4 linked regions of the Homo sapiens genome follow. The protein of the gene in region 4 purifies or fractionates together with the protein of the main gene of each other region. This does not show direct contact. Each region holds a gene or a part of one and is shown on either strand. Other genes may lie near its edges.

What was found.
Region 1: the proteins of DNA2 (region 4) and SMG7 purify together in Homo sapiens (affinity purification with mass spectrometry; 2 studies listed by BioGRID and IntAct, with this or other methods). This does not show direct contact.
Region 2: the proteins of DNA2 (region 4) and DCAF4 purify together in Homo sapiens (co-immunoprecipitation; one large-scale study listed by IntAct). This does not show direct contact.
Region 3: the proteins of DNA2 (region 4) and WDHD1 purify together in Homo sapiens (co-immunoprecipitation; one study listed by IntAct). This does not show direct contact.

The regions. Positions count from the first base shown.
Region 1 is NC_000001.11:183,522,427-183,530,414, reverse strand, and holds part of SMG7 (nonsense-mediated mRNA decay factor SMG7), read right to left. Parts: intron 3,820-7,988; coding exon 3,648-3,819; intron 2,703-3,647; exon of another isoform or gene 2,684-2,702; intron 2,460-2,683; coding exon 2,388-2,459; intron 1,524-2,387; coding exon 1,373-1,523; intron 1,018-1,372; coding exon 882-1,017; intron 1-881. UniProt on the Homo sapiens protein: Plays a role in nonsense-mediated mRNA decay. Recruits UPF1 to cytoplasmic mRNA decay bodies.
Region 2 is NC_000014.9:72,927,099-72,935,086, reverse strand, and holds part of DCAF4 (DDB1- and CUL4-associated factor 4), read right to left. Parts: intron 5,523-7,988; exon of another isoform or gene 5,331-5,522; coding exon of another isoform or gene 5,267-5,330; exon of another isoform or gene 5,123-5,266; intron 65-5,122; exon of another isoform or gene 1-64. UniProt on the Homo sapiens protein: May function as a substrate receptor for CUL4-DDB1 E3 ubiquitin-protein ligase complex.
Region 3 is NC_000014.9:55,015,134-55,023,121, forward strand, and holds part of WDHD1 (WD repeat and HMG-box DNA-binding protein 1), read right to left. Parts: intron 1-7,988. UniProt on the Homo sapiens protein: Core replisome component that acts as a replication initiation factor. Binds directly to the CMG complex and functions as a hub to recruit additional proteins to the replication fork.
Region 4 is NC_000010.11:68,419,974-68,423,473, forward strand, and holds part of DNA2 (DNA replication ATP-dependent helicase/nuclease DNA2), read right to left. Parts: intron 2,918-3,500; coding exon 2,724-2,917; intron 2,632-2,723; coding exon 2,542-2,631; intron 2,457-2,541; coding exon 2,252-2,456; intron 1-2,251. UniProt on the Homo sapiens protein: Key enzyme involved in DNA replication and DNA repair in nucleus and mitochondrion.

The sequences.
Region 1 (7,988 bases), on a different chromosome or scaffold from region 4:
ACATAGAAAGTATCAACCAAAAAGCGATTACCTGTAAAAACTATTTCGCATTGACTATTTTTGGCTAAGTGACACCTTAACTGTCCAAGTTCTACAATCTCTTAAAATGCCTGACTTATAAAGAACTTACAGAAATACTATGAAGCAGTTATACACAATTACCCAAGTATATAGATACCTAGAAATAACCAAGAAATATAAAATGTTCTTTGAAATTGTCATTTACTGTTTAACACAGTGCCTAAAACAATGACCGATGAGTAGTCAAATATTTATTTGAATACATGAACTGAAAAAAAGTTAATACTTTTGACTTTCTCCTTATTTTATGCATTATACATTTAAACTGCTAATATCTTAACATACTAATAAAAGATCATTTTCACATATATAAATAGAATGAAGGTTAATGTTATCTCTTCAAATTAGTAAAATATATCCCTGTTAAATGAAACTCTCATTCCTTTCATTCAAACTACCACAATCCTGATGAATGCAAGCACAATAAAAATAATGAACTTGGTTTGGAGAATGCCAATATCTATAAAGCAGGTAACATAATCATATCTAAGAATACACAAACCATCAAAAGTAGTAGTAGTTTCAAAACTGAGGAGTTATTTATTTTTTTCCACTTTGATAATTTTTGTCAAATGGCAACTACTCAAGTGAAAACACTGCTATATTATATTTGTTTATACAGACTGTACCTCAGTTTAAATTGAAGGGATGATAAATGCAAAGATTTCACATACTTCGAATATAATTTTTACCAATAGTTCACACAGTTAAGTAACTACAAAAACTGGGAGTCAGTTTCCTCCAAATGTTATGCTTCCTGATTTAGACAAGACAAAAATTCTCTATTTCTGAAATCTAACCTTAAACTGTTCTTCCAATTTCTCTCGAAGAGGGCTCAACTTTTCCAAGCTCTTACTCAGGTACACATGACCGTGGAATTTAATAAAGGCCTTGATGAAGTCAGAAACACCCCACTTGGTTTTCACCTCATCTCGGCTGAAATGAAAGAAAAAAATTCCATGAATCATAAGCAGCAAATTGGCTACAACTGTTTAAGGAGGCACTGGCTTGCTAAATACTTGATACACAAAAGAGCTGTATTTGACTGATTTTTCAACTGCAACACACTCAAGATGAGTCAGTATTAACAGCCTGTGTACTCTTTTACTGGGACTGAATCAGATATTGATTGGATGAAATTCAGTGACTATACACAAATTATGAAAAATCTATATGTTTAGAAATAAGAGAAGCATAGGCCGTTATTTTCTGTAAACCAAATTATGAGGAATTAAGGCTCCAGGTTACAAAGTCCTCTTGGAAAGAGAAAAAAAAAACCAAACAACCCTACCTTTCCAGTGCTTTAGAAAGTGCTTTTTGCAGATTAGTGGAGGCAGCTGGGAAAGGGAACTTCACAGCAATGCTTCTGCAGTAGTAGAAAATTGTGGTCAGATGGTCTCCTTTGGAAGAAGCTAAGATAGCCAACTGATTATAAGGCTGACCTACAGGAGAAAGTTAAGATTCTGGAGTAACCCCAAGAGTGACAAAGTCTTGCTATAAGAATACAAATGATCAGTGTTTAAATACTCAAACAATGGGGAGTATTTTTATAAGGTAAATATGACTGCCTCATTGCAAACCAGCGTAAGGTCCAACAGCACACTTCAGCGACAGTACACACTATCATATACAGGTTAAACAGTCAATATTAGGGTAGAGAGCGGCTTCAGCAAGGGCTAGATTATAAATAATTTCAGTTTTGTAGGCCAAAGGGTCTCTATCACAACCACTCAACTCTGCCACTGTAGTGTGAAAGCAGCCATAAACAAATATGAAACAAGTAGTGTGGTCAGACTATCATCCCTGCTTTAGACTCTTTCTAGAATCTAAAGGAATTTCAACGTCTTAGTAAGAATGATTTAAATAATTAAATATCTGCTGTAATTTCTGTAACTCAAGAACTACTGCTAATGCCTAGTTTGGGGCCATTAAAAGATTATCTTTTAGGTAATAGATTGTTTTTCTGGGGGGAGGGGAATGGTGGTATCTAAAGAAATAATTATTCTATAAGCAATTAAGGAAGCCAGAGTTGTAGAAACAATATCAGATTACATTAAGAGATTCTATCTATATTGCTTTACTGACAATAATAAATAATAAAATAAAATAAATAATAAAAGTCATCTTACTTGTAAAAAAAATTCATTTTAGTTTACATGGAATGTACAGTTAAATGGAAAAACATGACAATAACAAAACTCATTTATTGCTTTCATAAAACTTCAAAGGTGAGCCCTGAGTTATCTGCCACATTGTTATAAAGAACAAAGTGTCACGGTCAATCTCAGGTTGACAGGTCCACTCACCATTGGAGGGGACAAGCTGAGCTGCATGCCTATAGTAGGACTCTGCCTGGCTGGTCTGGTTTCTGTATCGAGCTAAGAAGAAGAAAATTAGTTTTAAAAAACCCAAAAAACAAACAGTAGGGTAGTATTTCCAAAACAGCTATAGTTTTAAGTTCTAAAGATAATAAAGACATTAAAGTTAATTTAAAATTAAAGACAAAATACTTTAAAACAAATTAACTATAGGATTATGTGTGAAGTGTCCATCAGCCTTCCTTATTTGGGACATTCAGCATGTAACCAATTTTAAAGCTTACCTAGACCCCATTTTCAGGTCCTCCAGTGTCATGCATCACCAGCTCCCACTATGGACTATGCTGGTGACCTGGAGCCGGCCCACAAGAAGGGGTGAGTTATATGGCACTTAAAAACAAAACAAAACAAAATACACTATACAATATGATCTGAAAATTATGTATTTTTCAATATTTTATAAAGTGATTTTGAAAAATGTCTCATTCCTATTGCAATATTAAATATGTGTGTGCAAAGATTATATTTAAAGCAAAACAACCTAAACACAGTATCAATGAATCTCCCTGCCAAACTCACTGCTTACTCTGATGTGACCTCCTCATGGAACCGCTGACTTACAATATTAAGAAATCTAAAATTTCAAACTTAAAAGCAGTAATGTTCTCCATTCTTTGTTATTTGAGGACAAGCAAAACATAATCCTATAGTTAATTTGTTTTACAACCTTTCTAGGTCACCTTAAAGGAATGAACAAGAATAAATAAGTTATATAATATTCCCAGATAAAATGCAAATAATAGAAATACAAATTAAACTTTAAAAAGGAAGCAAAATTAAAAATCAACTTTTAGTCCATTGGTAAGAAAGAAAGAAGGCAATTTCGCTTCAGGAGTAATTTATAAACCTCATTTATTCCAGAAGAGTACATTTAATTTAGAAATTATGGCACCACTTTGAAAAATTAAGCTTTGATTATGTTTTTGCTGTTTATTATTTGCCTATATAAATTACATAAAGTTGGAATAAAATTTAAATCTTAATATGAAAGTTACTTTCTTCACGATGCTCTGCCAATCCCAAAAATATTGAGAAATTTTAAGTTCCTTAGAATACATTTTATAGTTTCTTCTTATGACAATCTAAATTGTGTGTGTATGCTCCGCTTAAAGGAAAACAGTTTCTTTCTATGACTATTCCAAAGAAAAGGAGGAACATATTATCAATTCCTTCACAGCAAAGGCTCACCAATGTCTCCAAGGTGGACGAGGCAGTGCTGGCAGATATAGGAACAGGAGCTAGACTGTGGCTTCACTATGGCGCTGGTATGCGTCTGTTTATTGCTGATAATTCCCAATTGGGAAGACTTCACACGGCATGGTAAATCTACATTAAATACTGTACACAGTTCTTGTAATAACTAAAAGAAAAACAAACAAAATTTAGTAGTAAGTCACAAGTGCTCTAAAAGTAAAGTTTATAAACTGTAAGATGTGTACCTAGTACCACATACTGCTGAAATCTGAACAAAAACTGCATGAAAATTATATGGTAATCTTTCGGGCCTGGCACAGGGGCTCACGCCTATAATCCCAGCACTTTAGGAGGCCAAGGCGGGCGGATCACTTGAGCTCAGGAGTTTGAGACCAGCCTGGCCAACATGATGAAACCCCGTCTCTACTAAAAATACAAAAAAAAAATCAGCCGGGAGTGGTGGTGAGCACCTGTAGTCTCAGCTACAAGGGAGGCTGAGGCACAAGAATCGCTTGAACCCAGGAGGCGGAGGTTGCAGTGAGCCGAGATCACGCCACTGCACTCCAGCCTGGGTGAGAGAGCAAGACTGTCTCCAAAAAAAAAAATATATATATATATATATATTATACGTTAATCTTTCACAGGATAACTAGTATCATTCATTATAAATCATACCTTTTGAATTCTCAAGTATTACAGCAATCTAGGATGTGCATACAGCAGCATTTTAAAAAAAGATTATTTAACTGGATAGGATTTTCAGACACGATTTTCAGACACATTAAGCAAGCAAAGAAAGCTACTACTCTCAGAAACCCAAAAATTATTAAATATTGGTTACAAATTTGACTTAAATGTAAGCCAAGGTATTTGTCAGACTTTAGGTATTTCTTGCAATTTATTTTCTTAAGCTGTATGCCAATTCACATGTCTTTGCATATACAACGAATCTCACCGTAGTGTACACCTTTACTGTATCACCCATTCCTACCTCCTCTCTTCTCTGTTCTTAAAGTATGAGGGGCTCTTCTTCCTAGTCAGAGCTAACTCTTCTGCCTATGTGTGCCTATTGCTACATTCTTTTCTGGTTCCTGTCTGTCTCCCACCTCTCCATTCTTTCATCTACTGTCAACTTTTCATGCTTCTTTCCTATGGCCTACACACCACGTCTCCCACAGAAAAAAACAAGAACAAAAAACAAAACAGAGCTAAAACACTCTCCTCTTGACTTTATAGCAACCTTTTAATGTCTCTCCTTCTTCTCAACCAAATGCCTTCAAAGGAGTCCACACTTTTCATATCTGCTTTCTCAATTTCTATTTACTCCTTAATCCATTATCATCTGGCTTCCACACAACCCCTCTCCCTCCTCTCACCCAACCATCCATTACCACTCTACTGAAACTACTATCAGACAATTGGTTACCTAATAGCCAAATACAACGGATATTTTTCAGACATCATCTTATTGGACCTCTTTGCTGCACTTAAAACATCTGATCTTATGGTTGATTACTGAGCTGTTCTAGTTCTCTGTCATCTCTCCAATCACTCCTTTTCAGTCTCCTTCATAGAAAGGCTTTTCTCCTCTCACTTTGCTTGCCAAGGGCTTATTTCTTGCCCCGCACACAGTTCTTCACACTGTGAAGAATATTTACTTCACAGTTATTCAAATATTTACTTACAAATATCGTCATTCAAATATTATTATATTCATCCAAGTATGTGCTAGTATATCAGACACCCAGTAAACAAGAAAGATACAAAGACAAGTAAGAAAATATGTTTCCTTCATGAGCTTGTAGCTAAATGGGCAAGTCAGGTACAAAAAGAGAAGTAGAGGGGAGAGAGGGAGGGAGAGGGAAAAGGGAAAGGAGAGAAGGACAGACAACATGACACACAATATAACCAACAGAATATTCTACATTTATAACGTAACTTATTTCCCTAGGTTATCTGATAAATTTGTCTCACTTTATCCTTGTGATAAACTAGTAGCAACACAGTATACATAGATATAAAGCTCAATTTTTTTCAGATGAGGATGTGAAGGCAGAAATAATCAAGCGACTGGACTAAGGTTATAGAATTAGAAATATTTTGATTCTATCACCACTCTTTCTAGCATGTACAGAATTCAAAATACAAAATAAGACACCCTAAGGGCTCAACTCAGAAGGATCTGAATCATGCCACCTTTTTCCTAAGATAAAAATCACCTCCATAACTAAATATAAATTCTGCGCACCCTTTCTCACTGGGCATGGAAATTATTTACTCCATCTTTACTTGTACATTTGTAATGGGCAAGAAATTCACTAACATAAAATTGGGTAAACAAGGCCAGGCATGGTAGCTCATGCCTGTAATCCCAACACTTTGGGAGGTCAAGGCGGAAGGATCACTTGAGGTCAGGAGTTCAAGACCAGCCTGGACAGCAAAGCAAGAATCTGTCTCTACAAAATAAACAAATGAATGAATATAAAAATGAAAATAAAGTGAAACAAAAAATTAGCCACGTGTGGTGGCATGCAGTGCTATAGTCCCCGTACTTTGGAAGGGTGAGGCGGGAGGCTCACTTAAGCCCCAGAGTTCCAGGCCGCAGTGAGCTATGATATACACTGCACTCCAGCCTGGGTGACAGAGAGAGACCCCGTCTTAAAAAATGAATAAATAAAATAAAATAAAATGAATACATAAAAAAACAGGGTAAATAAGTTAATGTCCTGAACGGGATGGGTTAAGAAATAGAAAAAGCACAAGGCACAGGGCAGGAACAAAAAAAATATATATATGTAAATATATATATACCTACATATATATTATGAAAAAAACAAAAAACAAAAGTGGATAACTAAGAAACATGAGAGGGTTAAAGAACTGACTTCAATAGGTAATGAAAAAACAGACTGGAAAACTAGGCAAGGCTGCACATCTAGCAAAAACAAAAAAGAAAGATCACAAAAAATAAATAAAATTATGGTTGGAACATCATGTAGAATGTCTTGTAATAAAATTTCTGCCTGAGCCCAAGAGTTTAAGTGGTGATATCAGACAGAAAAGCTCCTACTGGCTCAAAGATTCTGAGAAAGAGAGCTCTAGTTGGTTTAGAGGCAGTAACAAGATGGAACTAAAGAAGAGAAAAGGATGTTTCATAAATTGAACAAAACAATGTCCTACCTTCATATAGGTTGACCCTGATGTACATTACTTTGTAGTAGTTTCCTCAGTCTGATAAGAACTTAGTTACTTCATTATACAGAAGTATTGACTGGGAGATATTCCTAAGGCTGTAGCTGAATATTAATGCCTCTAGTTCTTCCCAAATTATAATCATGGAACTATAAAACTGGAAAATGAACCTATAAGCATTTGTCAACTCTCTTTTTTACAATCAGAAAGCTAAGCACCACAGAGGTAGTGACTTGTCCAAATAGTCACAATTAGCCCTAGAGCAGTACTAGAACAGTTTCTGGGTTCCTATTTATCAATTTTTACACTATCTCTTGTCTCCTCAGCTCTTTATTCCATGCCAAGAATGAAAGATTGATTATGAAGGTATAGAATATTACCTTTTAAACTAATACAGAAACTCAGTGATTATACTTTCTTTTTGGTTCCTATTTTCTTAGAATAAAGGCTACCGTTCTGTTCTTTGATGTTTAAAAACAACCTACAGCAGAATGGTATGTCTTTACTTTGACCAGGAATTTGGTTCTGCTTTAAGCCCCATGCTTTAACTGGTTAACAAAATGGTAGCTAAGAAGTTAAAACTAAACCAGCCTGGGTAACATAGTGAGACTCCATTCTACAAAAAATAAAAAAAGGTAGCTGGTATGAGCCTGTAGTCCTAGGTATTTGGGAGGCTGAGGTGGGGAAGGATCACTTGAGCCAAGGAGTCTGAGGCTTCAGTGAGCTATGATTAAGCACCGTACTCAGCCAAAATGATAGAGTGAGCGCCTGTCTTTAAAAAAAAAAAACAAAAAACTAAAAAACTATCTTCACAGAAAATGTTACTGTGGATAACCAAGTACTAGTCTCTTCTCAATCCACTCTAATCAGGTTTCTATCCCCAACACTGCTGAAGTTACATTTCATCAATACAAAGACACCATAAATTATAAGATGAACCATCATCTTATATAATATTGAGAAAAAACCACAAGTTATATGGTCACTTGTCATCTGTTATAAACTTATCTCTATTTCAGATATGTTAAAATATGAAAAAAAAAGTTTCAGAAATGAAGAAATATGGTATTCATTAAGTTCACCAATGACTTTCATGTTGTCAAACCTAATTGGTCACTTTAAATCTTACTTTAATTCTCAGCA
Region 2 (7,988 bases), on a different chromosome or scaffold from region 4:
GCACTCATCACTCTGCATGACTGTTTGTTCATACTCCCATCTCATACTGGACGTGAGGTGAATTCTGTAAGGCAAACATCCTACTTTGTTCTTTTTTCTATTCCTAGCATCCATGACCTAGTTGGTGCTTAGTAAATTTTTGCTGAACTGAAGCAAAGCAAAACAAAACCTGTGGCTACTTTACATTTAAGTCCCAGGTAGCTTCTTTCTGCTCTGGGTTATTTCCACTTACTACTCCACACACATTTACAAAGCGCCCACTCCATGTGAGGCACTGGGGAGTGGGCAGAGATAATAAGCTGTGCTACCTGGCTTGGAGGCACCGATTGTTTAATATGGGAGACAGATGCACAGACCAACCCCTGCAGCACAGGATAAGGATGAAGACCCAGGTCTCTCCAGGTGTGGTGGGAGAGAAGGGAGTGACTGCTCCACATGCCTGGGCTGGAGGTGGGGGAGGGAGATAAGTGCAGTCTGAAGAATGAAAATGTCAGGCAAGCCCGGCGTGGTGGTTCACGCCTGTAATCCCAGCACTTTGGCAGACTGAGGTGGGCAGATCACCTGAGGTCAGCAGTTTGAGACCAGCCTGACCAACATGACGAAACCCCAACTCTACTAAAAATACAAAAATTAGGCCGGGTGCAGTGGCTCACACCTGTAATCCCAGCACTTTGGGAGGCCGAGACGGGTGGATCACCTGAGGTTGGGAGTTTGAGACCAGCCTGACCAACATGGAGAAACCCCGTCTCTACTAAAAATACAAAAATTAGCCAGGCATGGTAGTGGGCGCCTGCAATCCCCACTACTTGGGAGGCTGAGGCAGGAGAATCGCTTGAACCCGGGAGGTGGAGGTTGCCGTGAGCCGAGATAGCGCCATTGCACTCCAGCCTTGAGCAACAGAGCGAGACTCCGTCTCAAAAAAAAAAAAAAGAAAATGCCACGTAAGGCAGTGGGGGCGGGGGGCCTGCAGGCTGTTTGGTATGGCCAGAGCCTGAAGTTCAAGAAATGGGGGGGATGAGCCTGCAGAGGCAGACAGGGCATGATCATGAGGACTCTGGGTGTGCGAGGAGTGACATGATTAGAGCTGCTAAGAAAGGGCACCTGAAAGGCAGCGGCATGGGGTGACAAGTAAGAACTGCAGTGGCAAGCCAGGTGAGATGAACTCGCTTACACATTATGGACATGGTACTTGGGATAGCGGAGCCTGGATTTAGATTTAGGCAGCAAATTTCATGGGAGAGGTGGAGAGAGGAGTTGAGAAAGGTTAAGTGAATAACTGGTAGAGTCATGAGCAGGGAGACTAAGAATAAAGGAAGAACACTTTGGGGAGAGGAGAGTAAGTCTGATTTTGAACAAATCAATCTCAAGATGCAGGCAATGGGAAATACGGGTCTGAGAATACAGAGAGAAATTGAGCCTAAAGAGACAGATTTGAAAGTAAACAGGATATGGTGACATGGACTGGGACAAATGGCACCAAAGTGGTAATGGTATACAGTGAGAATTAGAGACTTTTTTTTTTTTTTTTGAGATGGAGTCTTGCTCTGTCACCCAGGCTGGAGTGCAATGGCACAATCTCGGCTCACTGCAACCTCTGCCTCCTGGGTTCAAGCGATTCTTCTGCCTCAGCCTCCCGAATAGCTGGGGCTACAGGCGCATGCCACCATGCCTGGCTCATTTTTGTATTTTTAGTAGAGATGTGGTTTCACCATAATGGCCAGGCTGGTCTCGAACTCCTGACCTTGTGATCTGCCCATCTCGGCCTCCCAAAGTGCTGGGATTACCGCACCTGGCCATTAGAGACAATTTTATCTAGTAATAATATAAAACCCAGTATGCATCACAGTTTGTAGATCAGTGCTTCTTAAGGATTATTTTGCCCACCAGGGGACATCTGGCAATGTCTGGAGACATTTTTGTTTGTCACAGCTCGGGAGAAGGAGGGGTAGGCTGCTACTAGCGCCTAGTGGGTAAAAGCCAGGGATGCTGCTAACCACCCTACAATGCGCAGGGCAGCTTCCACACATTCTTCAGCAAGAATTATCCAGGGCTGGGTGCAGTGGCTGATGCCTATAATCCCAGCTGCTCGGGAAGCCGAGGCAGGAGGATTGCTTGAGCCTAGGAGTTCAAGACCAGCCTGCGCAACATAGCAAGATCCCGTCTCAAACAAACAACATTAAAAAAAAGAAAGAAAGAAAGAAAGAAAAAAAAATTATTCAGCTGGGTGTGATGGCTCACACTTGCAGTTCCAACTGCTTGGGAGGCTGAGGTGGGAGGATGGCTTGAGTCCAGAGTTTGAGACCAGTGTGGGCAACATAGCAAGACTCCATCTCAAAAACAACAACAAAAGAGTTACCTGGCCCAAAACAGTGCTAAAGCTGAGAAAACCTGTTCTATGTAGGAAGCACTCGAAAACAATTTGCTGGTAACATGCTGCATCTAGCACCTTTGGAGCTGCTCTAGATGTTAAAATCAGGTGTGTTGCAGAAGGTTGGGCTTGCCTTTGTCTTTCAGAGAAACTTTTAAGTACCTCAAGGCATTAAGAATTATAATTTCTAAGAGACTACTATTCTGCAAAGGCAATGTTAATCACAAATAAACACAATTTGGTTTTTTGGAAAATGACTGGAAAATATTTATCAAGTAACTTACAAATGTACATGCCTTCCTTCTGGGAACTGCTCCTACAAAAATGATTCCAAGATATTTACTACATTTTTCCGAATCATTTTATAAGGCCAGTATTACCTTGTTACCAAAATCAGACAAAGATATAGGAAGAAAAATATAGGTCAAGGCCGGGTGCAGTGGCTCACGCCTGTAAGCCCAGCACTTTGGGAGGCCAAGGCAGGCAGATCGCCTGAGGTCAGGAGTTCAAGACCAGCCTGGCCAACATAGAGTGAAACCTCATCTCTACCAAAATACAAAAAATTAGTTAGGCGTGGTGGTGCACACCTGTAGTCTCAGCTACTTGGGAAGCTGAGGCAGGAGAATCGCTTGAACCTGGGAGGCAGAGGTTGCAGTGAGCCGAGATCATGCCACTGCACTCCCGCCTGGGCAACAGAGCAAGACTCCATCTCTCAAAAAAAAAAAAAAAAGAAGGAAAAATATAGGTCAGTATGGGTTATGAATACAGAGACACAAAAATCCTTAACAAAATGCTAGCAAGCAAAATCCAGGAGCATATAAAAAGAATTATATACCAAGACCAAGCGCGATTTATCTCAGAAATATAAGGTTGGTTCAACATATGAAAATCAATCAATATACCATACTAATAGATGGGGAAAACCTCACATGATTTTCTCAATTGATACACAGAAAAAGCACTGGACAAAATGCAACATCCTCTCATGATTAAAAAAACATTCAACATACTAGAAACAGAAGGTAGTTTCCTCAACCTGATAAGGAGCATCTACAAAATACCCACACCTAACATCATACTTAGTGGCCAAAGACAAAGTTTTCCCTCTATGGTCAGGAATAAGACAAAGATGTTGGTTCTCAATACATCTGTTCAACATTGTAGTGGAAGTTTTAGACAGGCAATTAGGCAAGACAAAGAAAAGGCAACCAAACATGATCTTATATACAGAAAATCCTAAAGAATCCACCAAAAATCTACTGGACCTCACAAATGAATTCAGCAAGGTTGCAGGATACAAGATCAATATAGAAAAACCAGTTGTATTTCTATACACTGGTTCAGGCAATGAACAGCCTGAATATGAAAGAAAAGTTACATTTACAATGGCATCAAAAAGAATAAAGCACTCCTCTGGTCCTGCTCAGGCTCAGTTACAAAAAAAAAAAAAAAAAAGAGAAAAAGTACTTAGGAATATATTTAACAAAATTAATATATGGCGTGTACACAGAAAACTATAAAACACTGTTGAAAGAAATTACAGATTGAATGCAATCCCTATCAAAATTCCAAATGCCATTTTTTTAGCAATGGAAAAGCAGATCCTAAATTCATATTATGCAAGGGACCCAGAATACCCAAAATCATCTTGAAAAAGAACAAAGTTGGGATGACTCGCACCTCGCAATTTCAAAATTCATTACACAGCTACAGTAATCAAGACACTGTGTTACTGGCATATGGATAGAAATATAGATCAATGGAGTAGCATTGAGACCAGAAATAAACCCATATGCCTATCTATGGTCAACTGGTTTTCATCTAGGTGCCAAGACCATTCAATGAAAGAAAGAAGTGTCTTTTCAACTGCTGGGACATTTGAATATCAAACTGCAAAAGAATGAATTTGGATCCTTACTTCATACCATATGGGACAAAAATGAACCAAAATGGATCTCGATCTAAAACTATAAAACTCTTTGAAGGAAACAAAGGTATAAATCATCATGATCTTGATTAGGCAATGATTTCTCAAATATGACACCCAAAACTCACACACACTACATATATATATATACACACACACATACACACATAAATTGGGCTTCATCAAAATTGAAAACTTCCGTGCATCGAAAGACATTATTTAGGGCCGGACACAGTGGCTCACGCCTGTAATCCCAGCACTTTGGGAGGCTGGGACTGGCGGATCACTTGAGGACAGCAGTTCAAGCCCAGCCTGATAAACATGGCGAAGCCCCGTCTCTACTAAAAATACAAAAATCAGCTCGGTGTGGTGGCGGGCGCCTGTGGTCCCAGCTATTTGGGAGGCTGAGCCAGAACAATCGCTTGAACCCGGGAGGTGGAGGCTGCAGTGAGCCGAGATGGTGCCACTGCATTGCAGCCTGGGCGACAAGAGCGAAACTCCGTCTCAAAAACAAACAAAAAAAACTCCGTCTCAAAAAAAAAAAAGAAAAAGCTACACAAATAGCCAACTGGCACATGAAAAGATACCCAACATCATTAGTCCTTAGGTAGATGCAAATCAAAACCACAGTGAGATACCACTTTATTTATTTAATTTTATTTACTTATTCCCTCCTACCCCCCTTTTGGCTGAAGTGCAGTGGCGCGATCTCCGCTCCCGGCAACCTCCATCTCCCCGGCTCAAGCCGTCCTCCTGCCTCAACCTCGGAGTAGCCGGAATTACAGGCACGAGCCACAACACCAGGCTAATTTAAAAAATATTTTTGGCCTTCCGCCACGGCCGCCATGGAGAGCAGCAGCCATGGCTCTGCGCTACCTTATGGCCGTGGGCCTCAACAAGGGCCACAAGGTGACCAAGAACGTGAGCAAGCCCAGGCACAGCCGCCGCCGCGGGCGTCTGAGCAAACGCACCAAGTTTGTAGCGGGACATGATCCGGGAGGTGTGTGGCTTCGCTTCGTACGAGCTGCGCGCCATGGAGTCACTGAAGGTCTTCAAGGAGAAATGGGCCCTCAAGTTCATCAAGAAAAGGGTGGGGACGCACATCCGTGCCAAGAGGAAGCGGGAGGAGCTGAGCAAGGTACTGGCTGCCATGAGGAAAGCCGCTGCCAAGAAAGACTGAGCCCCCTCCCCTGCCCTCTTCCTGAAATAAAGAACAGCTTGACGGAAAAATAAAATAAAAATAAAAAATATTTTTGTAGAGACGGGGTCTCGCTTTGTTGCCGCCCAGGCTGGTCTCGAATTTCTGGCCTCCAGCGATCCTCCTGCCTTGGCGCAGCGTTGGGATGACAGGCGTGAGCCACCACGCGCGGCAGCAAATCTGAGATTTAACACAGAGAGCCAGTATGTGCCCAGCGTATGTGTATGTAGTGCACAGAATATGTGGACCACCCTCTATAAAGGTTCATGCATGAGGAGGTCGGCTCTCTCTCACAGTCTAGCAGTTTTCCACACAAAAGCGGCACACATTTTTGCACCGGTCTCCAAAATGGTGTCTGGTTTGGGAGCCCGCAGCTTCCGGAATTACAGGCTCTTTCCTGCTTCCAGGGCACCATTCCAGGCCTGGCCTCAATAGGCCCAAGGCGCAGGCCCAGAGGAGGCCGGGCGGGGTGGGGGGCGGGGTGCGCTACACCCAGTAGGGAGCAGCCCCGGGCGTCCGTGCCGCCCGCAGTGCTGGGACGCCCAACACCGACCAGCCCCGGAGCCAAGTGTGGGGGATGGCAGCCCGCACACATCGGGGCTGGCCTCGCCTCCCCTGGGAGGTAGGCTTGACAGCACAGGGGGTCGGTCCAGCCTTAGCACGGGGCCAAAACTCAGAATGGGGGAGGGGCTCCATCTCCCCTTGGGGCTCTCCAGTTTGGGGGCCTCGGGGCTGTTCTGGTTTCCAGGCTGAGCCTCACCATCTTGTTTAGCACATGGTTAGGGGGCCTGGACTGGAGCCCAACAACCGGGGCTCTGAGACTGGGGCACCCTGGGGCCGCGGGGTTGCTTCTTGGGTGGATGAGAATGTTCCAGAATTAGACAGTGGTGATGGTTGCACAATCTTGCCAATATAATAATAAAAAAACCCACTGGATTGAACCCTTTTAAAAAAGTTAATTTTAGGGTATGTGAACTATATATATATATATATATATATATATATATAAAGGATGTTTACTACACCATGCTGTAATAGTTAAAGTGAGAAACATCCTAGATATCCAACAACAGGGGAATTTTGTAAGAGTCTGTAGACTGGCCGGGCGCGGTGGCTCATGCCTGTAATCCCAGCACTTTGGGAGGCCGAGGCGGGCGGATCACGAGGTCGGCAGATATGTGAGACCATCCTGGCCAACATGGTGAAAACCTGTCTCTACTAAAATACAAAAAGTTAGCCGGGCGCGGTGGCGTGCGCCCGTAGTCTCAGCTACTCGGGAGGCTGAAGCAGGAGAATCCCTTAAACCTGGGAGGCGGAGGTTGCGGTGAGCCGAGATCGCGCCACTGTGCTCCAGCCTGGGCAACAATAGTGAAATTCCGTATCAAAAAAAAAAAAAAAAAAAAAAAGTGGGGGGATTCTGTAGACTAGCGGGCTGTAATGTGCAAAACGCTAACGCCACTGGTCTGTAAAGCTGAATACAAAGTAGCTTCTACAGGCCAGGGCGGTGGCTCACGCCTCTAATCCCAGCACTTTGGGAGGCTGAGGTGGGAGGATAGCTTGAGCCCAGGAGTTCAAGACCAGCCTGGGCAACATAGTGAGACACCCCTCCGCCCCATCTTAACAAATAATTTAAAAATTAGCCGGGTGTGGTGGTGCATGCCTATAATCCCAGCAGTTAGGAGTTGTTCACTGTAAAACAACATTTTAGACAGCTGACTTAAAAAACAACAAAATTTTCTCTTAACACTTATTTAAGAAATACTTCAGGCGCAAGCTTTGTACTAACGCCCACCCTGAGTTGGTATTTTCAATCCTATTTTACAAATGAGGAAACAGGCTTACAGGACTAGGTACCACACCCAGCGTAAGTTAAATGGTGGAACAGGGATTCCACCTCTGTTGGTAGGACCCCCAGGCCTGGTTACCCACAGAACACCACCTCAGGCCGGGCGCGGTGGCTCACGCCTGTAATCCCAGCACTTTGGGAGGCCGAGGCGGGCGGATCACGAGGTCAGGAGATCGAGACCATCCTGGCTAACACGGTGAAACCCCGTCTCTACTAAAAATACAAAAAATTAGCCGGGCGAGGTGGTGGTCGCCTGTAGCCCCAGCTACGCGGGAAGCTGAGGCAGGAGAATGGCGTGAACCCCGGGGGCGGAGGCTGCAGTGAGTCGAGATCGTGCCACTGCACTCCAGCCTGGGCGACAGCGAGACTCCGCCTCAAAAAAAAAAAAAAAAAAAAAAAAAAAAGAACACCACCGCGACTCTAATTTCCATCGTTATTTAAAATCAGAGTTTGGGACTTTGGAATTGTTTCCTCTAGGAAGCCGTCCCCTCAGTTTTCTTTGCTTCTGGCTGCGCTGCTGGAGTCACAAGACAATGCCTGTAGAACACCATGGTGAAAGGCGTCATGGTTTCTGAAGCCCCCGGGGAGCCCACGAGGCGTGGCTTTCTCGCTAACTCACAACTCAGAGTGGAGGCGAGGGCCAAACCCA
Region 3 (7,988 bases), on a different chromosome or scaffold from region 4:
GAATTTTCACTTTAAAACATATTAGTATTAGTTGCATCAAAATTGGCTAGGGTGGAGCCTGACCAACATGGCAAAACCCTGAGTCTACTAAAAATACAAACATTAGTCAGACATAGTGCTGTGCACACCTGTAATCCCAGCTACTCCAGAGGCTGAGGCATGAGAATCATTTGAACCCAGGAAGCAGAGGATGCAGTGAGCCGAGATCGCACTACTGTAGCCTGGGAAACAGCATGACACTGTCTCAAAAAAAAAAAAAAAAAAAAAAAAAAGGCTAGGGTGGGTTTGGCAGACCTCTTCTTTGTACTTCCAGCTTCTGCCATGGTCTCATTTGGTAACATAACACACATAACACATGGTTAAATCTGTAAAATGACTAGTGATAAGCTATCTCCCCTTTTCCTACCCTTTCCTGATGCAATGTGACTAACAAATCCTTTCGGGGACAACATGTGAGGCATTCAATAAAAAACGGAATGGATTCAGATGTAAGACCCTAGGGATAGCTACTTCTTTCAGTCCCAATGGTGATGAGAGAAGTATTTCACGTTTTTGTTCCAATGGAATTTTTTTTTTTTTTTTTGAGACACAGTCTCACTCTGTCGCCCAGGCTGAAGTGCAGTGGTGCTATCACAGCTCACTGCAACCTCTGCCTCCCGGGTTCAAGTGATTCTCCTGCCTCAGCCTCCCAAGTAGCTGGGACTGCAGGCGTGCGCCACCACACCCAGCTAATCTTTGTGTTTTTAGTAGAGATGGGGTTCCACCATGTTGGCCAGGCTGGTCTTGAACTCCTGACCTCAGGTGATCCACCCACCTCGGCCTCTCAAAGTGCTGGGATTATAGGCATGAGCCACCACACCCAGCCCCGATGGGCTTCTTGGTGTATCAGCAGATGCACTGGAGGAGACGTACAAAGTTACAGGTGCCAGTTGGTGGGACCAATGGAAAATTATAGTGAAATATAGTAGAATTAATAAGAAATAAAGGCAGAAAATAGAGTTAAGCAATCTTCTAAAGAGCTTTTAGAGTAGTCTGAATGTTTTTCTAAATGGTTTTGTCCTTTATTGTATCAAATAACTAACTACATATTAATTTTATTGATTGCTATGCTTTTGAAATTTTGGGAAAAAAATGAAAACCAACACAACCCTTTCAGTGGTAATGAGCTAAAAAAGTATATCAAGTACATATTTAATAAAAGATTAAATACTAAATTTCTTCTTCTCAGGAAAGTTGATAATGAAAATATAACTTGAATAAAATGTTTGTTGACATTTACCACGGGGCTACAGTCATACTATAGTGATAACACCAACCACAAGAAAATTAGAAGAGAAAGAAGTCCCGAAGAAGCATCAGTATCTATTCAAGTTAGTAGTTATCTTGAGAAGGCTGCCTAAAAACTGTGATTCTACTCCTGCAGAAGGTGATTTATATCTTGTGAAGCATGATTCTTCCTAAGAACTCAGTGCTCTCCAAAACAACTTTCTGAGGTGATGAAAATGGTCTATACCTGGTACTGAGCAATTGAAATGTGGCTAATGTGACAGACAAACTGACTTTTTAACGAAGTTAACCTTAATTGATTTAAACCTACATAGCTGCATGTGGCTAGTAGCTACTGTATTGGACAGCGCAGCATTAAAAGAAATGTCAGTTGTTCTAAAATAATTTTGTTCATTTTTCATTCCAAGTTTTCTGGTGCAAGCATAAAAAGTGAAGTGACTGTTAATGGGTTGTCTCCATTATCAAAAGAACTTTCAGATGAGATCAGGTGCGTTCAGGGTGGTATGGCCATAGACAGCAAAAGAACTTTCAAACAGTTAAATGATAAAAGTATTATATCAATGTCATCAGGAGTTTTAAATAGAAAATCGCCCGTATTAATTCCAATAATAGTTTAGTTTACTCTTCAGTTCATGGAAACAAAGTAAATCTTCTGGAAGTTCATTCTGCTGAAAGTGAAATATCTGACATCAGTGGGGATTCTATCTAAATTTATTTGAAAAGTTTAACACTAATGATAAAATTCTTAATTTTTACAGTAATACAAATACAAACTTTGGCAGGAAATAGCGTTCAGCAGTCCTGCGAAAGAAGTGCTTTTAGAGTAGTCTAAACATTCTTCTAAATGGTTTTATCCTTTATTGTATCAAATAACTACATATTAATTTTATTGTTTTCTACAGTGCTGTAGGAAAAATCAATATTCTTTTTTTTTCTTTTTGAAACAGGGCCTTGCTCTGTTGCTCAGGCTGGAGTGCAGTGGCACCATCTCGGGTCACTGCAACCTCCACTTCCCAGGTTCAAGTGATTCTCCTGCCTCAGCCTCCCAAGTAGCTAGTATTACAGGCACGCACCACCCACACCTGGCTAAATTTCGTATTTTCATAGAGATGGGGTTTCACCATGTTGGCCAGCCTGGTCTCGAACTCTTGACCTCAAGTGATACACCTACCTCAGCTTTCCAAAGTGCTGGAATTACAGACGTAAGCCACTGCACCCAGCCAGAAAAATCAATGTTCTTACTATATTAGGAAATCTGTGAAACACAAAAGTACTTGAATTTGGAATTACAATTCATGATTCTATCCAAATGAGCTGCAAGATAACACACCAACAAAAAAGAAGCCATACTTGTCAAATTTTCAGATTTTATTTATATCTAGAATTGCTGAACAACAGAATTTTTGAAAAAAACATGTTTTGTTTCTGTTTTTGTTGCCCAGGCTGGAGTGCAGTGGCCCTACCACGGCTCACTGCAGGCTTGACCTGGGCTCAAGCAATCCTCCCACCTCAGCTGCACACAAATCAATGTGATATACAGAAAAACTACTAGACCTCCTGGCCTCAAGCAATCCTCCCACCTCAGCAGCGCACAAACCGATGTTAATTAAATACACAAAAAATACTAGCATTGCAGGACATACTTTCTCCCTCTGCTTGGAGTGATTGGGTTTTTAAAATCTTTAAGCCTTTGAAGAGCGAGCGACTCTGTAAAACAACCTAAGTGTCCTACTGTAATAATGGTATTATTATTATTAGAAACAAGTCCTCTAAATCTTAGTTGCATTTAGTTGAAAACAGACATCTTTAATCAAAGCATTAAACTTAAGCTTTTGAAGCTTTTAGTGAAATGCAATTCATGAAAACAAAACTTATGCACAGGAAGACACTGAAATTTATCCCTACAAAAGCAAATAAGAATTGAACAAATTGTACATGAAAAGCTGAAATGGTGAATGATTTCATTTTAAAATTCTGTAACTGTACTTTGGAATATCTTGACTTGTGGGAAGAATATTTTGATAGAACTCCTATTTTTAATTGTATTAATTTATGTTCTGTGCCAGAATGAAATAAAAGAGTAGGCTTAAAATCTGTGAAACATCCAAAAGAATCATAGACAACTTGATGAATTTTGTCCTTAAAAACAGTGAAGACCCTATTATTGAAGAAGTGTACCCTGAATGGAGATAAAAAGACAGAACCTATAAAAATACTGAGGCTGAAGTATTTACCCATTTCAATTAAAACAAATTCTTAAAAATTATGACTCTCCCAGCTAGTAGAATTTGCTCTGAGCCTGCCAAGTACCTTAGAACCTAACATTTTTCTCATTAAAAAATATTATAGTCTAGGCCAGGCATGGTGGCTCACGCCTGTAATCCCAGCACTTTGGGAGGCGAGACCAGCCTGACCAACAATGGAGAAACCCCATCTCTACTAAAAATACTAAATTATCCAGGCATGGTGGCGCATGCCTGTAATCCCAGCTACTTGGGAGGCTGAGGCAGGAGAATTGCTTGAACCTGGGAGGCAGAGGTTACAGTGGGCCGAGATGGTGCCATTGCACTCCAGCCTGGGCAACAAGAGTGAAACTCTGACTCAAACAAATAAAAAAAAGAAAAGAATTGAAGATTTAACTTCAAATTTATTCAGCATAAAATGCAACTCTAAACAAGGCTACAGCTAATTTTTTATGAGAAAAATTAAAATAACACTGTATTAAAAATATATTTTTCAGAAAAATATCAGCAATACCATGGGACAGACAGGCTAAGAAACTGATTAAAGCACATAAATATGTACCAGAAATGATTATCTTACATATGTTAACATTTAGATCATATGTTTAATGTTTGGATAATCAATGTAAATAAATATTTTTATTTTTTTCTTAGGTAAACTGGGTAAGTTGTTAATTTACATATTCCTAGAAAATTATACCTTTGTTTCAAATTTTCAAAACTATTGGCATAAGGGTGTCAATGTATTCACGTATTTTGAAGCCTATATTGTACCTTTTTTATCTCTAATATTATTTTATTTGTGCCTTCTCTTTTTTGATTCATGACTCTTGCTAAAGCATTGTTCTACTAGGTTCTACCCCCAATAAACCAGATTTTAGTTATAAGATGTATGGGATTTACTTTAAAATAATAAAGAGTAAGGCGGGGTGTGGTGGCTCATGCCTGTAACCCCAGCACTTTGGGAGGCCAAGGCTGGTGGATCAATTGAGGTCAGGAGTTCAAGACTAGCCTGGCCAACATGACGAAACCTTGTCTCTACTAAAAATACAAAAATTAGCCAGCTGTTGCGGAGGGCATCTGTGATCCCAGCTACTTGGGAGGCTGAGGAGAGAGAATCACTTGAACCCAGGAGGCAGAGGTTACAGTGAGCCGAGATCGTGCCACTGCACTCCAGCCTGGGCGACAGAGCTAGACTCCATCTCAACAAAAAAGAAATCCGCTATCAGTGTCTGGGCATGAAGATTAATTATATCAAGACTTCATCAGCTTTATGACATAACCTCAAGGAGTCAATGATTACCAACGCATTTCTTACTACCTCAACTCTATCCTCAGAGAGCAACATTCCTTCCCTAATCTGACCACCTCTTCTTGACTCTTAATCATTGAGTCTCATGAGGTTCATGGTGAGGCACAAGCAAAATCTCTATATACTCAGCTTTCTTTCTGGTCATTCTTCTGGGGTCACTGCTTCCTCTTCAGCCCTCTTAAGTAGTGACTGATTACTTTCTATACCCCACTGGTACTAGAGACAAAATCAAAACCACGTAGTGTCAACCTCACTAATTCAAATTCCTCCCCTTCCATTATCTTGAATCCACTTCAAGGTTTTCATTCTTACCATTCCATAAAACTTGCCAATGGCCTCCACATTGCTAAATCTAATGGTGAATTCTCAGTCTTCAACCTGACTCACCAGGAGCATTTGACAGAGTCTATTATTTCCTGTTCCTCAAACACTTCATTTGGCTTCTAAACATCCTTCTTGTCTTTCAGTTCTCTACTTTTCTAGCTACTCTTTCTTAGTCTCCTTAGCTGGATCCTCTTTAACTTGATCTCTAAATATTTTGGAGTATCCTTGAACCTCTTTTCTTACCTATATTTACTCCTTCCCTAGGTGACTTCATCCAAGTTCACAGTAATAAATATTATGTTTATAAGGACAATTCTCACATTTATATTCTTAGCCAGAACCTCAACCCTGAACTCTGGAAGGTATCAGCCAAAGATGTAAAGGTGACCCTTGAACAACATGGGCATTACAGGTTCCAACCCCTAAACAGTCAAAAATCCACATAGAAGTTTTGATTATCCTAAAACTTTACTAACAGCCTACTGTTGAGTAGAAGCCTTACTGATAACATAAACAATTAACACATATTTTGTCTATGTATTATATACTGTATCTGTACAATACAGCAATATAGAGAAAAAATATATCAGGAAAATCATAAAGAGGAGAAAAAATATTTACTATTTATTAAGTGGAAGTAGATCATCATAAAGGTCTTCATCCTTATCGTCTTCACAGTGAGAAGGCTGACGGGGAACACGAAGAGGAGTTGGTCTTACTGTCTCAGAGGTGGAAGAGGGGGAGGAAGTAGAGGAGGAGGCAGGAGAGGCAGGCATACTTGGTGTGACCTTATAAAAACACATCATAATTTCCGTCTGACTCTTTTCCTTTTTAATTTCTCTAAAAATGTTTCTATACAGTACCAATCCTTCTTCCACCATTTCCTTTAGTTTCAGTGCTCATAACATAGAAGGGTCTATGTTGTAAAATAAGTCAAAAGCAGTCTTGAATAATCAGAACCCTTCTGCCAGATTGCCTAAAGTCAATTTGTTTTCTGGCACTACTTCTTCTACATCTTCTTCCTTATCACTTGGCAGTAGTTAGGAAGAACTCATTTCTATCAAATTGTCTTCTGCTAACTCTTCGGTTTAGTGTCTATTAGCGTTCCTTTTTTTTTTTTTTGGAGACAGAGTTTTGCTTTGTTGGCCAGCCTGGAATGTGCAGCGGCACAATCTCGGCTCACTGCAACCTCCACCTCCTGAGAGAAGGTGGAGTGTGGGATTACAGGCGTATGCCAACATACCCAGCCAATTTTTTATGTTTTTGGTAGAGACCGGGGTCTCATCATGTTGGCCAGGCTGATCTCAAACTCCTGACCTCAAGTGATCCATCTGCCTGGGCCTCCCAAAGTGCTGGGATTACAGGTGTGAGCCACCGCGCCCAGCCATGTCTGCTACCTCTTGAATGTCTCCAAGGTCTATATCTTGAAATTACTTCGCTCCCTTATCTTTTTTGCCATACCCACAATCTCCTTCATGATTTCCTTGACTGGCTCTGCTGTCAATCTTAAGTCATGCACAACGTCTGGACACAGTTTTCTCCAGCAGGAATTTGTTTCGGGCTCGATGGCCTTCAGAGCTTTTTCTATAACAATGATGGCATCTTCAATGGTATAATCCTTCCAGACTTTTAGGATGTTCTCTCTACTGGGGTTCTCTTCCATAGCAATGACAATCCTTTCCATAGATTAGTTTATGTAATGAGCCCGTAAAGGCCTGTATGAACTCCTCATCTAGAGGTTGAATTCGAGACATTGTGTTTGGGGGCAAGTATACCAGTTTGACACCTTCAGTATTGAACTTATGGTGTTCTGGGTGGCCAGGGGCATTGCCCAACATTAAAAGAATTTTAAAGGCAGTCCCTTACTAGCAAGATACTTTCTGACTTCAGGCACAAAGCATCAGTGAAACCAATCCAGAAAAGAAGGTTCTCATTGTCTAGGTCTTTTTGTTATACAACTAAGAGACTGGAGTTTATCTTTTCCCTTCAAGGCCCGGGGGTTAGTAGCTTTATAAATAATGGCAGTTCTGATCACAAATCTGATTGTATTTGCACCAAACATTAGAGTTAGCCTTCCTGCCTTAAATCTTAGTGCTCACTTTCCTTCCTTACTAATAAATGTTCTTTGTGGCATTTTTCCCCCCACAGAATAGGGCACTTTAGTCTACATTAAAAACCTGTTCACCAGCCTGGCCAACATGGCAAAACCCCGTCTCTACTAAAAATATAAAAATTAGCTGTGTGTGGTGGTGTATGCCTGTAATCCCAGCTACTCGGGAGGCTGAGGTAGAAAAATCGCTTGAACCCAGGAGGCGGAGGTTGCAGTGAGCTAAGATCGCGCCACTGCACTCCAGCCGGTGAGACAGCTAGACTCCATCTCAAAAAAACAAAACAAACAAACAAACAAAAAACCTGTTCAGGCAGATGTCCTTTCTCCTCAATGATTTTCGTAATGGTGTCTGGGAATCTGCTGTCTCTTGGTCAGCAGAAGCTGATTCTATTGCCATCTTGACCCTTTCTCTTTCTTTTTTTTTTTTTTTTTGAGATGGAGTTTCGCTCTTGATCCCCAGGCTGGAGTGCAATGGCATAATCTTGGCTCACTGCAACCTCCACCTCCCGGGTTCAAGTGATTCTCCTGCTTCAGCCTCCTGAGTAGCTGGGATTACAGGTGCCTGCCACTGTGCCTGGCTAATTTTTTGCATTTTTAGTAGAGACAGGGTTTCAACACGTTGGGCATGCTCTGACCTCAGGTGATCCACCCACCTCGGCCTCCCAAAATGCTGGGATTACAGGTGTGAGCCATCACACCCGGCCATCTTGAC
Region 4 (3,500 bases):
CTACCGACTTGGAGATGAAAAATAGCTTTGTCTAAAAGATGAAGGTGAAAGAATCAACAAAAATGAATATTAATATTAGTCACTTTCAGAAAGCCACGCAGAGGCCACCTATCTGAAACATGCTATGATTGAGGCTAAAATACCTACGAAAGCTGATCACACACTGAGCTTCAAATACTTCACTTTGTTATCCCCCATTTTACAGGAATCAAAGGCAGAAAAGAATAAGTAACTTTCCCAAGGCCTCACAATAAACTGTGGCACTACTATTTGAACTTAGGGTGGCCGGGCGCGGTGGCTCACGCCTGTAATCCCAGCACTTTGGGAGGCTGAGGCAGGCGGATCACAAGGTCAGGAGTTGGAGACCAGCCTGGCCAACACAGTGAAACCCCGTCTCTACTAAAAATACAAAAATTAGCTGGGCGTGGTGGTGCGTGCCTGTAATCCTAGCTACTCAGGAGGCTGAGGAAGGAGAATTGCTTGAATCTGGGAGTCGGAGGTTGCAGTGAGCTGACACAGTGTCATTGCACTCCAGCCTGGGAGTCAGAGTGAGACTCCGTCTCAGAATCAAACAAACAAACTTAGATCTGGGTCGTATATCTGTGCTCTTTCCATTTTCTTGTCCCCTTTTATACAAATAATGGAGCAGATAAAACTGCTGTCCTACCTCCTGATACATCTCTTCAAAGACTACTTTCCTCCTACATCATCCCTAAGCAATCTTGATTTTTTTTTTTTTTTTCTGAGACACCAGGAGATTGCACCACTGCACTCCAGCCTGGGAGACAGAGCAAGACTCCATCCTAAAAAACAAAAACAAAAACAAAAAAGTCGTTGTGCAGATTTCTTTTTAATGACTGGTTTGTAAAAAGGTCTTCATGTGCATATGTGGGGGAGGGAGGTTATGAGAAACCTCTGTACTTTCCACATAATTTTGCTATGAACCTAAAACTGCTCTAAAAAATAAAGCTTTTTTTTTTTTTGAGATGGAGTTTCACTCTGTCACCCAGGTTGGAGTGCAGTGGCGCGATCTCGGCTCACCGCAACCTCCGCCTCCCAGGTTCAAGCGATTCTCCTGCCTCAGCCTCCCAGGTAGCTGGGACTACAGGCGCACCACCACACCCAGTTAAGTTTTGCATTTTTAGTAGAGACAGGGTTTTGCCATGTTGGTCAGGCTGGTCTCGAACTCCTGACCCCAGTGATCCACCCCCCTCGGCCTCCCAAAGTACTGGGATTACAGGAGTGAGCCACTGTGCCCGGGTTTAAAGTCTGTTTTTTAAAAAGTCTTTAAAAGGACATCAATTTATTATACCCTCTGTCCATTTGTAAACCCAGCCCTTTGATAGTATCAGTGCCATTTCCTTTTCTAGGAAATAGAATTATACCCCTGAGTTCACTTTGTGGCCTTCCTTCTTCAAAAGTCAATTTTGATATCTACTGACCTCCAGAATAAACCTCCTCCAAAAAATACTGGGCCTATAGAAAGAAAGACTATTTTGGGCCGGGCACAGTGGCTCACACTATAATCCCAGCACTCTGGGAGGCTGAAGCAGGCGGATCATTTGAAGCCAGGAGTTCAAGACCAGCCTGGCCAACATGGTGAAAGCCTGTCTCTACTAAAAATACAAAATTAGTCTGGTGTGGTGGTGGGTGCCTGTAATCCCAGCTACTTGGGTGGCTGAGGCAGGAGAATCGCTTGAATCTGGGAGGAGGAAGTTGCAGTGAGCCGAGATCATGCCACTTGGGCAACAGAGCAAGACTCCGTCTCAAAAAAAGAAAAAGAAAGGAAAAAGAAAGAAAAGACTATTTTGGGTTGAAGTATGAGAAGTACATTAGTTTTGCCTTTTTTTTTCCCCCCAAGATGGGAGTCTTGCTCTGTCACCCAGGCTGGAGTGCAGCAGTGTGATCTCAGCTCACTGTAACCTCCGCCTCCCGGGCTGAAGCAATTCTCATGCCTCAGCCTCCTGAGTAGCTGGGATTACAGGCACCCACCATCATGCCCAGCTACTTTTTATATTTTTAGTAGAGACAGGGTTTCACCATGTTGGCCAAGCTGGTCTTGAATTCCTGACCTTGTGATCTGCCCGCCTTGGCCTCGCAAAGTGCTGGGATTACAGGTGTGAGCCACCACGCCCAGCCTAGTTTTGCCTTTTAACTGATAAGCTCTAATTAGGGCATGTGCTAATGAAAACTGAGAAATTTAAATAATAGGACAAAATGAGAAAAACTAAACAGAAATTTTTTTTTTTACCTTGTCTGTATTAAGGAAACAAACAGGATTGTTGGGTTCAAATACTCCCATCAACCAAGGATTATCAGAATAGTCAGCATAAAATTCCAGTTCCAGCTTCACATCTTTAAAGTGACGTAGGTTTATCACTGCATTGGCCACTTTGTCTGATCCACACTCCAGCTTGCCCTCATAGGTCAGCTTATTACTTAAGGACATAATTTTACTAAGGGAATTACAAAAGATAACTTTAGTTTTGGTAGATGGAAACAAACATGAAAACCACTCCTAGCTAACACTGTTACAAATACCTGTTCATTCTGTACTGCACGGTTAACTGTACAACAGCACTCTTATTCTGCTCCAGCCTCTTGAATAAGCTTTCACTCATGCCAAGAGCTCTGTCAATAAATCAGATTCATGTTTATCAGTGTACTAAATCTGTTCCTTGAAAATAATCTAGTTTAAAATTAACACTTAAGTGTCTGCCTACCTTGCTTCACGGTTTAGCACCAGGGGAGGAAGCTGCTGATGGTCCCCCACTAACACAAATCTCCGTGAAAAAAAAAGGGGGCCCAGACAAATTGGTTGGCTAATTTGAGAGGCTTCATCCACAATACAAAAATCAAAAATTTTACGGGAAAATATTGGATGGTTTATTCCCATACATGTTGTTGCAACTATAAGCTAAAAACAAGGAAAACAGATCAGTTATTTAACATGTAAAAGAAATGTAGTTTTGTTTCTCTCATTTTTGAAATGAAAAGATCAAAAGGTTTTTGTTCTATGGCATCAGGAATCCTTCGATATTATTTAATTCTGAAATATTTATAGCATGCAAATTTTAATTTTTTTCTACAAATTAAAAATAATCAAGTAAACTTTCCAGACACTATTGAACAATGCTCACATTTGGATATTTCCCAGTGGAAATCTGGAACATTCAAGAGGTAATAAGTTAGTTCTTTTTTTGTTTGTTTGTTTGTTTGTTTAATGTCAACCAGGACTTTGCTTCTGGGAAGATGGAGTACTTTTCCTTATTCTTTCCACAAACGACAACTAAAATCCCTAGGCATTATATATAAAAAAAAAAAACAAAAGAAGACTCTGAAAGGTGGAGAGAAGGCAGACCAGCTAGGGAGCTCAGGACCAAAGAAACAACACAGTAGTTGATTCCCTGGGCTTTCTTTTTGCCTCATAGATCCCAGATTTGGAACTGAAGGAGCCACGGCACACCAGTGGGTGCTAAAAACAGCTGCAACCAAAGTCT